Linked DNA regions of Homo sapiens: region 2 is linked to region 1. The links come from fine-mapping of genetic effects on gene expression. A gene starts in region 1. The other region holds a variant in brackets. All regions are shown on one strand. Distances are between the middles of the regions. Region 1 holds the start of DSE (dermatan sulfate epimerase). Region 2 has its middle 3.5 kb from the start of CALHM6-AS1.

Region 1 (5,382 bases):
AAAATAAACCATTAAATGTAAGGGATAAAATAAGCTTTCAAAGAGTTAACTGAAAAGATAGGTGAAGAAGCTTGTAAGAAAATATGTCCTAGCTGTCTAAAGCTTAACTTCTTCTTGCCTAGTAAATTTCCATCTCAGCAAGGAGAGTTTACCAATAAGGACTCTCAGCTAGAATCAGCAGAGGGAGATGAACACTAAAAAACTGGAGGTGGACAGATGGAGTTCCAGTTTTTGCCTTAGTCTGAAACCGAGGCAAGAAACTTTTCACAGATACTGAACAAAATGAATAAACCTATTATTAAAATGACATCTGGATACTTAGAAAAGGAAGACACAATTTTGTAGACATGAACCACAATTCACTAAGTAGTCATTTCCTTTGTTTTTTGACAATATTACAGTAGAGCAAAGACATCCAATAGACAAAGCTCATCTGCTGTCTGTTTGGAGCTGCATCTAGGCGTAAGGGGTCACTTTTTCCTAATCCTTCAGCTAAGGTGAGAGTGGGGATACCTTTTTCTAATTCTTACAAAAGTGCCACGTACCCATGTACACAGGCTGCTACCCTGGGACAACAGACAAAAATAGGACAAGGTAACATGTGGGTCCTCAACTGATAAGAATGTTCATCAGTAGCATTCAAATCCAGTGTCGGTTGGCAGAGGAAGGTACCTGAGAATGAGAACTTAAATGATGGCATGGCATACAGACCGGATTTACAGAGGTCATGAAATTGAGAGGTGGAATTACTCAGTTATATCAATGATACCCAATATGTCAACAAGCTAAGAGGCCTAATTTAACACAATAAAATTCAGTAGAATCACAGGTAAAGTGCTGAACACTGCATTGAGTGTAGTTGTTTAGTTCAGTGATTCTCCAACTAAACTTTTAACACTTTAAGGTTTTATTTGGTAGATTGTAATATGGAGTCAGCTGGGTAATATTGCTGCCATGGAAGCTCCAAGGATATACTTAGGGAAATACAGTAATTACAACAAAGCCATTAAACATCTTTCTAGTTTGTCACTTGGGTGAAACCTTGAATTCAATTCTTGGCATCAGGGTTTGAGAGAGATGTTGGCAAAGTAAATCTCCTCCTGAGAGCTTTCCTAATGGATGAAGAAAAGCTGATGGAGTTAATATGTACCCAGGTAAATTGAAGTATTCTCCTGTGGAATCAAGGCTAGGTGTATCCTGTAGATTCCAGAGAGCAGAATAGCAGATCTGTTGAGACTTACTGTAATGGGGTGGGCGGGGGCGGGGGGACGGGGGGGGCTTTGCACAAAGTGAATGTCATCCAGAGGCCAATTCGCAGGTCACTCAAAAGCAAAATTGTGGGGGGTGTGAGGGTAAAGGGGAGCAAATGACAGTCAGTACTACCTCCTTTGAAGAATTCTCAATCCTGGTTGTACATTGTGATCATCTAGGAAGAGATTTTAAAATGCAGATGCTGATGCTTAGACCCTAACCTCAGAGATTCTGATTTGTTGTTCTTGCGTGGGGGTCCCCATTGGAAAGAATTTATTATAGCTCCCCTGCTGATTCTAAAGTTCTAGGTTGGAGAATCACTGAACTAGACTACTACTTGCTGAGAGGTTACGTAAATTAAACCAGATGTTTTTTCTAAAGTCTCTTTCAAATTTGAGAAGATAAATGGAAATTAACACTTACGGATTACATAATACAGCTAGACACTTTCACAATTTATTCTAATAATTGAATTAGTATATGTAAATCTCTTAGCACAGTGACCGTCTGATATGGTGTAGTAAACTCTCAATAAACATTAGCTATTTTTATTATATCCTCTCCATAACTGTTCAAACAAGGTATTATATTGTTACACTATAGATGAGGAAACTGAGGTTCTGATGTTAGTTTTCCAAGGCCCACAGTAGTAAAAGCAAAGTTTGGATTTGAACCAAAGATTAGTTCCAGTTTCCAGAGCCCTCTTCTCTCCTCGACAGGCCTTCCCTAAAGCATCAAGAAGTTTATGCAAATTAGTGGTTCACCTGAGTGAACATTTAAAAAATTTAATAGTACCACTTCCTCTTGACCTGTTTGTAAGGAGTTCCTCTTAAATGCAATTTCTGAAAAAGAGAAGCATAAACTGAGACATCCACATTTTTTCCTTATTTGGCCAAATAGAAGTGAGAACCTCTGAGGATAGAGGAATTGGATGGAGGTGCCCTTCAGAACTCATGGAGAAAAGCACTGCTCCCAGTAAAATATCTCTCATTCTAATGAATGGGTAAGTATCCTACAAATCTTTCACTTCTGTACAATCTAGGTCTGGTAGGTTACTTGCACACACTGGGTGGAGGTGGAAGGGGCAAAGTATTCCTGAGGTGATGGCCCTGATCCTACCTCACATCTCCTTGGGGCCTGGTTGGACCTGGCTGAGCGTGTTTGAGCAGTGGCTGATTTTTGGAAAACAGGAGGACTCTTCTCCAGGAGGCTGTGACTACCAAGGTTGCAAATGCTCCACCTGAACTTGGGTGCATGAGGGATCTCTCTCTCTCACACACACACACCCCCCCACCGCGTAAGATAAATTTCTGTTTGTGAGCTGCCTACATTAAATGCTTTGCTCCTGACCTTCTGTGATTAAAATCTGTTCCGTTTGCAGGGTTCGGTGCGCTTGGATTTAGTGTATTTTGTTGGTACAGTAAAAAAGAGAACTGCTTCTCTATAGGTGACCCCCGCCCCAAAGTCCCCCCTCCCACTAACTTCTCTTTGAGAAGAGAGTAAAACCGAATTCGAGAGAAAAGAGGCAGTAACTATTCGGGAGGAGGCAGACTGGAGTGGGCACCAGTCCCGGTAGTAAGAGTCTTAACGTCTTCCTCGCTTTCCTCTCGCAGAGTAGTATGGAAGCATCAGCTCCTCCCCCTGGGCCTCCAAAAGTTACCTTTCCTTTGGGTGTGATTCTCGAACCCGAAGCGTTTGAGTCCTAAGAAACTAGAACAAGTTAGAGCCAAAGAGGCCTGGCGGGCGGGGGTGCGGGTGGAGTCCGGGCCGGGTGGCGTGGAAGGCCGAGCACAGCTGCGAGCGGCGAGTCCCGGGAGAGGAGGAGCGGGAGAAAGCGGGGCGGGCCTGCGGTCGGGGTTCGGCCGGGGGAGGGGGTCCCCGTTTCCCTCTCCTCATCCTCGTCTCCTCTGGCTCTGGTGACGTTGCGGTTTCCTCCCCCCTCCAGCGGAGCCTCAGCGCCCGCCGCGTCCCTCCCTCCGCCCCTTTCGCCCACACCTACCCGCCCCCGCCGGCCCGGCTCTCAGTAGCGTCGCCCGAGGCTGCAGCAGCGCATCCCGGGGCATGGCGCGGCGGGGGCGCGGAGGGCTCGGTTCGGAGGGGGCCGGGAGCCCGGGCGCCCTGGAGTGAGGAGGACCGGGAGCTGGCTCTGGAGGCTGCGGAGGCGACGCCGGAGAGAACGAAGCCTCGGCTGGGAGCGGTAAGTGGAGGGGCGCGCAAGGGACGAGCTGGGGCGCGCGGCGCAACTTTCTTCGGGAGTTTCGGGCGGGTAGCCTTCGGGGCTGTCCCGGCGCGGGCGGGAGACGGAGAGCCACGTCCCCGGCTGAGAGCGGAGCGCCGCGGGTTGCGCGCCCGGGCCCGGCTCGGCTGGACTCCGAGAGAGCGCCTGACGCGTGAAGCCTGAGCCACGGGCTTCCCCGGCGGCGGAGCAGCCTCGAGGGGCAGCTTTTCGATCCTCCCCACCCCCTTGAACGCCGAGCACCGAGCCGGGAACACGATGAGAACCTGGAGATCGCATTCCGTGCGTCGGATCTGGCCGGCCCAGCCGCGATTTCCTCGACGGTCCTTGGGGCCTCGGCTTCACTCTGCGGGGTTGGGTGGCACACCCTCGCGTCCTCCTTTCCCTCCGTACCCCAGCCATTTGGGGGCAGGGGAGGTGGCGGCGGCTTGTGTGCAGATCCTGGCGCTGGCAACCCTACTTTGCGGCTGCAGAAGCCGAGGAAGAGCTCCCCAAGCCTCTCCCAGACGCTGGATTCCAGCGCTCCTGGGCTCCGCCGGCACTCGGAGAAATTGTTAGTAAACCTCATCCCCGAGGCAGTCCCGGGGAGGGGAGGAGGCGGGGGCTTGACTCACAGACTGGGAAGCTCTGAAAGCGATGCCACATGGGCTCAAGATCTGTCGGGGCTGGAATCTGAGCTAAGTTTGTGACCTGAGAACTTTTTCGTTTATATCGCTCCTTTAAAGCAGCAGCCTCCTCTTAAGCCGGCTGGCATTCAGATGGAAACCGAAGCCTTTGGTTAAAATCAGGAGGTGAACCTCACTTACCTGAAATTCTTTAGGTCAGGCAATGACGCTTTTAGTTCTAGGAATCTTCGTGTAATAAAGTTCTTTTTAAAAATTTTTTCGTTGGTCATGGTTTAGAAAGTCATGGTTTAGCACTGTTAATTAAATGCATGAAAGATCTCACTTATACATATTTTTAGTATTTTTCACATTATAGAATTTAAACTTTAAGTAATTCCCTCAAGTTTTTAAAAAATTTCTCGGCCGGACGCAGTGGCTCACGCCTGTAATCCCAGTACTTTGGGAGGCCGAGGCAGGCGGATCACGAGGTCAGGAGATCGAGACCATCCTGGCTAACACGGTGAAACCCCGTCTCTACTAAAAATACAAAAAATTAGCCGGGCGTGGTGGCGGGCGCCTGTAGTCCCAGCTACTCGGGAGGCTGAGGCAGGAGAATGGCGTGAACCCAGGAGGCGGAGCTTGCAGTGAGCCGAGATTGCGCCACTGCTCTCCAGCCTGGGCGACAGGCTCAAAACAAAACAAAACAAAATTCTCAATGATAATCTCTATGTGAAATAGTGATAAACAATATTGTATAGAGTATTCTAACTATATTACTAAATGGGATCACAAAAAACCTAATGTGCATGGAAGAAAATAAAATATAGGATTATCTGAGTATTTGTTTCATGCAAATACTTAGATTTCTGTATTGTGACCTCTTCCTTTGACGGTCACGATACAGATATAAGTTCTTTTCTGAAGTATGTAGGTAAGGTCTGTTCTAGTAAAAATGGAGAAGATAACAGATTGAATTTGATGTCTCCATCACCTAGTGACCCGTCTGTGTGGGTTCAGCAAAAAGTGCAAGATAGTGCTGGTTACCTAGGTTACATACACAGGTATATGAGATCAGCCTTAGCTCTCTTGGAGCTGCTAATGTAGAACCTGAGAAACATCAATAAGCAGCACTTCCTAAGTTTGAGCTTGGGAAGAGTTATTTTTCATTGACTAGTATATGACGTCAGTATCCGTTTTTATGAAGTTTTAGTTAAATAAAAACACTGGCCTAAAAAGTACATTCTGACAGTTTAAAAAATACTGAAAGTACAGTCACCAAGTGAAGGGGAA
Region 2 (5,382 bases), 97 kb after region 1:
GAATCCTGTAGGGTAGCAAGAAGGAGCATTTCAGTCATACAGATAAAACCAATACCATACAAAGAAATGCAAATTGTGACCTGATTTAGATTAGGGGAGAAGGGATTTGAGGAAACTTTTTGAAAACTGAATCCTGTAGGGTAGCAAGAAGGAGCATTTCAGTCCTACTGAAGGAACAGTATGTGCAAAGACTAGGGAGAAAAAGATGTTAGCAGAGTTGGAAACCTGAAAGGCGACTGAAAAAAATGAGCAAGGGACTGAGTGTGCAGTGCCTGGAAACCATGAGAAGGATTTTGGTTTTCATCATATGAGCATTTTAGGAAGATGGTTTGCTTTCCTTGAGAGAAAAGGAATGACATGGGAAGCAGGAGAGCCAGGGTAGAAGGAGAGAGACTAATCAGGAGGCCACTACAGTGGAAATAGGTGGGAGTGAACTTGAACTGAGTGGATGGGGACCAAAATGGAAAAAGTAGATAGATTCAAGGTAGACTTTGTACATAGATGTGGCAGGATTTGTTGATAGAAAGTCTCTAAAGACGGTGAGAGCAATTATATCTACGGATAAAATTCTGTAACTTTATAATGCCGGGACTTTTCAGCGATCCTTGCCTTCCATTAGCTTGTCATTCCTGCCCATTCCCCAAATTTGTGGCTGTTTTCTGAATTTTAAAATATGAGATAAAAAAACTTTAAACTATAAAATAATTGAGCACTGGTCATATTTAGCCCTTCTTCCTCTTTTGGCAGAAGCTTATGCTGATTTCTGTTTACCTTTTTCTGCATAAGGCCGTTAAAAAGAACTAACCTACAGGGCAGAATATCCTGTTGTTGAGAGTCATGCGTAACAAGAAAGTTGGCAGCAGAAACAGCGTGATCAGCTTTTTTTCATTCCCTAAAAGAATGCTTTTGAAAATCATATCATACCTAGTTTCATTTTTACTTCCTTTATTTCATTTTCCAATTGCTGCTTCCTTTTTCGTCTGAGACAGGATCTCACTCTGTCACCCAGGCTGGAGTGTAGTGGCAAGATCTTGGCTCACCGCAAACTCTGCCTCCCTGACTCAAGTGATCCTCCCACCCCAGCCTCCTGAGTAACTGGGACCACAGGCATGTGCCACCATGCCCAGCTAATTTTTGTACTTTTTGTAGAAATGGGGTTTCACCATGTTGCCCAGGCTGGTCTCGAACTCCTGGGCTCAAGCAATCTGCTTGCCTCAGCCTCAAAGTGCTGGGATTACAGATGTGAGCCACTGCGCCCAGCCTCCAATATCTTTTTGTATATTCTTTCCTTTCAAAACTTTTTTTATGTTCTATCACTTATACTTGCATCTTCAGTAGTATCATATTGTCTCCATTGTTTTGATTTATGCTCCACCTCCTCTTGCACAGTCCTTAATAATTATTGTGAAAATATATATGCTTAAGAAAATAATTGTAATGGTAGAGAATGGTGAGAAGTAAAATAAAATTACCTCATTCCTTTGCAATATATTCTTCTCAGAAGTAGCCATGTATAAACTCTGTGTCTGCATAAACTCTATCATAAGTGTTGTTCTGTAACTTTTACACATAAAGTACAATTATTCCATGTCAGTATCTGACAATTTACCTCATTTAAAAAATTGCTACTTAGTATTTTACTGGTTAGTAGGATATTATCCCTTTTTTGTTAACCCCACCGACCAGCCCCCACACACATGCACACACATTCATAAAGTGTAGAAAGGTAAGCACTAAATTATCAAATGTGGTCCCTTCTGAGGACTAAGATTGGTGCAGGAATTTTTTTTAATTTCATGCACTTTTGATCTTTGGAGTTGTTGTAATGAATAATAAATATTAAATGTATAATTGGAAATTTTTAAAAAGTAACCTTACCCTGGTGTAGAGTTTTACAGTCAAAAAAGCAGTTTTGCATCTTTTATTTCATTTCATTTTAACAAGTTTCCAGGTTACCCGTGAAACACCTCACTCACATTTACAAATGGGAATCGAAAGTTAAAGAGGTTACATCATTAATCCAAAGTTACATGTCAATAAAGGCAAAACCAAAGGTAGGGTACGGATCCTCCCTAGATGATGTAGTTTAATGTGGCCACTGGCTGTTTTTATTACTGGGTCAGATTTTTCCCTTCCTAGCCCATGTGACTTTGTGGGCAGAAGAGATACAGATCTCCTTAGTGACCCTCAATATTTGACGTTTTATCTTGAAACTCAGCAACTACTAACAGGAAAGACCACTTTGAATAAACATGGTGAGACTGAGACACAGTAAGTTATTTCTTGGTGGGAACAAGGTCACTGCTATTTGGCAGAAGTCACCACTCCTCTGGGCCTGGCCCAAACAGGCTGCATCATTGGCTGAAGAAGCATTTCTACACTCAGTATGTATTTATTTGCTGGTTTACCAAATGATTCTTCATCATCACCCCCAGCTTTATGCTATCCTGAACACCTAACCTTTAAAGAGATTCAGATGCAGAATCTGCTATTAATATTTGCTGAAAAACAACCACATTGTTATAAGAGATGATTCTACGTTGTATCGAGTACTGGCAAGATAATAACAAGGCATAAGATTAAGAATGGTCTCCTTGCTTTATCCAAAGCCATGGCTAGAAATATCAATGCTCAATGAACTGACTAAAGAAGCAAGTCCTAAGGGGAGTATCTGAAAATAGAATTAGCCAAATACTCAAATGTCTCTGGCTGAAAAACATCTTGGAACTCTAAATTTCACAACATCCTGCATCTTATCTACCAGGTGGCCTACAATAAATTATTCTCCCCAAGATAAAAGATGGAGAAACCCTCCCTCTCTGAGTCAGCCCCAGCAGCAGCAGCCAGGGCCTATTTTGACAGCAGCGCACTCCCACTGAGTGTTTAGCACACCTCACACTAAGCCTACCCCAAAAGCAAAGCCTTTAGTTGACTTAATTTTGTCCCTTCCTCTTCATTACATACTTATGAAATATCTCTTGTAAATTGCAATGTAAGGACTGTGGAATT[G/A]ATCATATTATATTCTTATCCAGTGAAAAAGACTGAAATCAGGGCTGGCACAGTGGCTCATGCCTGTAATCCCAGCACTCTGGGAAGCTAAGGCAGGAGAATTGCTTGAGACCAGAAGTTCTGAGACCAGCCTGAGAAACATAGCAAGATCTTATCTCTACCAAAAAAAAAAAAAAAAAAATTATCTGGGTGTGGTGCTGTGCACCTGTAGTACCAGCTACCCTGGAGGCTGTGGTGGGTGGATCACTTGAGCCCAGGAGTTTGAGGTAGCAGTGAGCTATTATTGTGCCACTGTACTCCAGCCTGGGTGGTAGAGCAAGACATGTCTCTAAATAAATAAATACATACATACATAAAATGATTTTTTAAAAGATCCAAATCAAAAAAGGGTATATTCTTTCAAGATGATTTGCCACAAGGACTAGAACATTAAGAAGTTCCAAATGAAAGGAATATCCTACAAGATCCGGCAATTTATTGCCATTTTAAAAATTATGAGAAATAAATCACAGAGAAGAGTATATGAAACATTTATGTACAATTTAATAATTATTACAAAGCAAACATCTATGTAACCACCGAAGAGTGGAAGGAAATGTACATTTCCAGCACCCCAGAAACCCCTGCCTCATACATCCTTTCACACTTCCAACTCTTTCCACCTAGAAGTGAGAAGTGATCATTTCTTTCTTTTTGCTGTTTTACCACTTAAGTGTGCATTCCTAAACTATCCATGCTTAGTTTTGCTGGTTTTTGAACTTTAAATGAATACAATCGTGCTGTAATAATTGTTTTGTGATATTCTTTTTGTTTTTAAGAGATTAATCCACATTATGTCTAGGACAATTTATTTATTTTGATTGCTGTGTGGTATTTTATTGTTCAAATATACTATAATGTAGTCCATTGAACTGCTGATGGACATTTGGGTTGTTCCCAGTTCTGGCTCTTATCAGCACTGCTGGTATGAACATTCATGCACTTGTACTCTGATAAACACGAGCAAGTGTTTCTTCAGAGTGCATTTCTGGGAATAAGTGGTAGCATGAGAGTATGCACATATTCCAGTTTGTTATATCATGTCAAATATAAAGGATTGTATCCATTTATACTACTATAAGAATTCTCATTGCTTCTCACTTCTGCAATATTTGGTATTTCTAGTTATTTACTTTTTGTCAGGGGAATATGTAATGGTATCTCTCATTGTGGTTTCAACTGACATTTCCCTAATCATTGCAGACTTTAGGCATCTATACATCTCTTTTCTAGCCATTTGGATATCCTTTTTTATGAAATGCCTATTCAAACCTTTTGCCCATTTTCTATATTTAGTTTGTCTGTCTTTTCCTTATTGATTCATAGGATTTCATTATTATTTCATTCACTTAAACCAACAAATATTTATTGAGTGTCTGATACATTCTGGGCATGTTCTAGCATGTGTCAATGAAGCAAAACCAAAGCTCTGTCCTCATGGAGCTTACATTCTAGGGGGAAGCGGAGGAAAAAAGAGCAGCCACAATAAATAATAATAATAATAAAAAATAAATAATTGGGTATGTAAGGAGAAGATTAATACTATGAAAAAAAGAAAACGGAGAGCACCCCAAGAAGCATTAGAAAGGCTGGAGATTGGAGAGCTGTTGCCCTCATGAGAAACGACCTTTGAGCAAAGATTGAAGGGATGAAGGGTTAATCAAGGTGGTCTGAGAATGGCGAATTAGGGGACAGAAATAGGCCATGAAGTCAGAGAGATAAAGGGGTTGGGGACAGATTATGTAAGCCTTTGGACCACTGTAAGCACTCTGGCTTTTATTCTGAATGAGCTGAACAACTACCTCACACATTCCCTACAACAGCAGTCCCCAACCTTTTTGGCACTAGAGACTGGTTTCTTGGAAGACGATTTTTCCACAGACAGGGGTGGGGGTGGGTGGTTTCAGGACGATTCAAGTGCATTACATTTTTTGTGCACTTTATTTCTATTATTATTACATTGTAATAATGAAATAATTATACAACTCACCATAATGTAGAATCAGTGGGAACCCTGAGCTTGTTTTCCTGCAACTAGATAGTCCCATCTGGGGGTAAGGGGAGACAATGACAGATCATCAGGCATTAGATTCGCATAAGGAGCATGCAACTTAGATCCCTCACTAGATGCTGCCGATCTAACAGGAGGTGGAGCTCAGGCGGTAATCCAAGTAATGGGCAGCAGCTGTAAATACAGATGAAGCTTCACTTGCTCGCTTGTCACTCACCTCCTGCTGTGTGGCCCAGTTCCTAACAGGCCATGGACCGATACCAGCCCATGGCCCAGGGGTTAGGGACCCCTGCCCTACAACACCTAAATGATCTGATGACTGA

What was found.
Region 2: its variant is fine-mapped to the expression of DSE in whole blood (INTERVAL, PIP 0.97).

Annotation. Positions count from the first base shown.
Region 1 is chr6:116,367,674-116,373,055 of GRCh38, forward strand. DSE (dermatan sulfate epimerase) reads left to right here and starts at 3,274. Exons shown (of 6, transcript NM_013352.4): 1 at 3,274-3,448. LOC100287467 (a long non-coding RNA gene) reads right to left here and starts at 4,046. Exons shown (of 1, transcript NR_148944.1): 1 at 1-4,046. RefSeq lists enhancers at 2,081-2,130, 3,645-4,145 and silencers at 3,061-3,590, 3,353-3,647.
Region 2 is chr6:116,464,496-116,469,877 of GRCh38, forward strand. No RefSeq gene overlaps it. Among named protein-coding and RNA genes, the nearest start is that of CALHM6-AS1, 3.5 kb to the left of the region's middle. The variant G/A (reference allele first, on the strand shown) is at 3,010.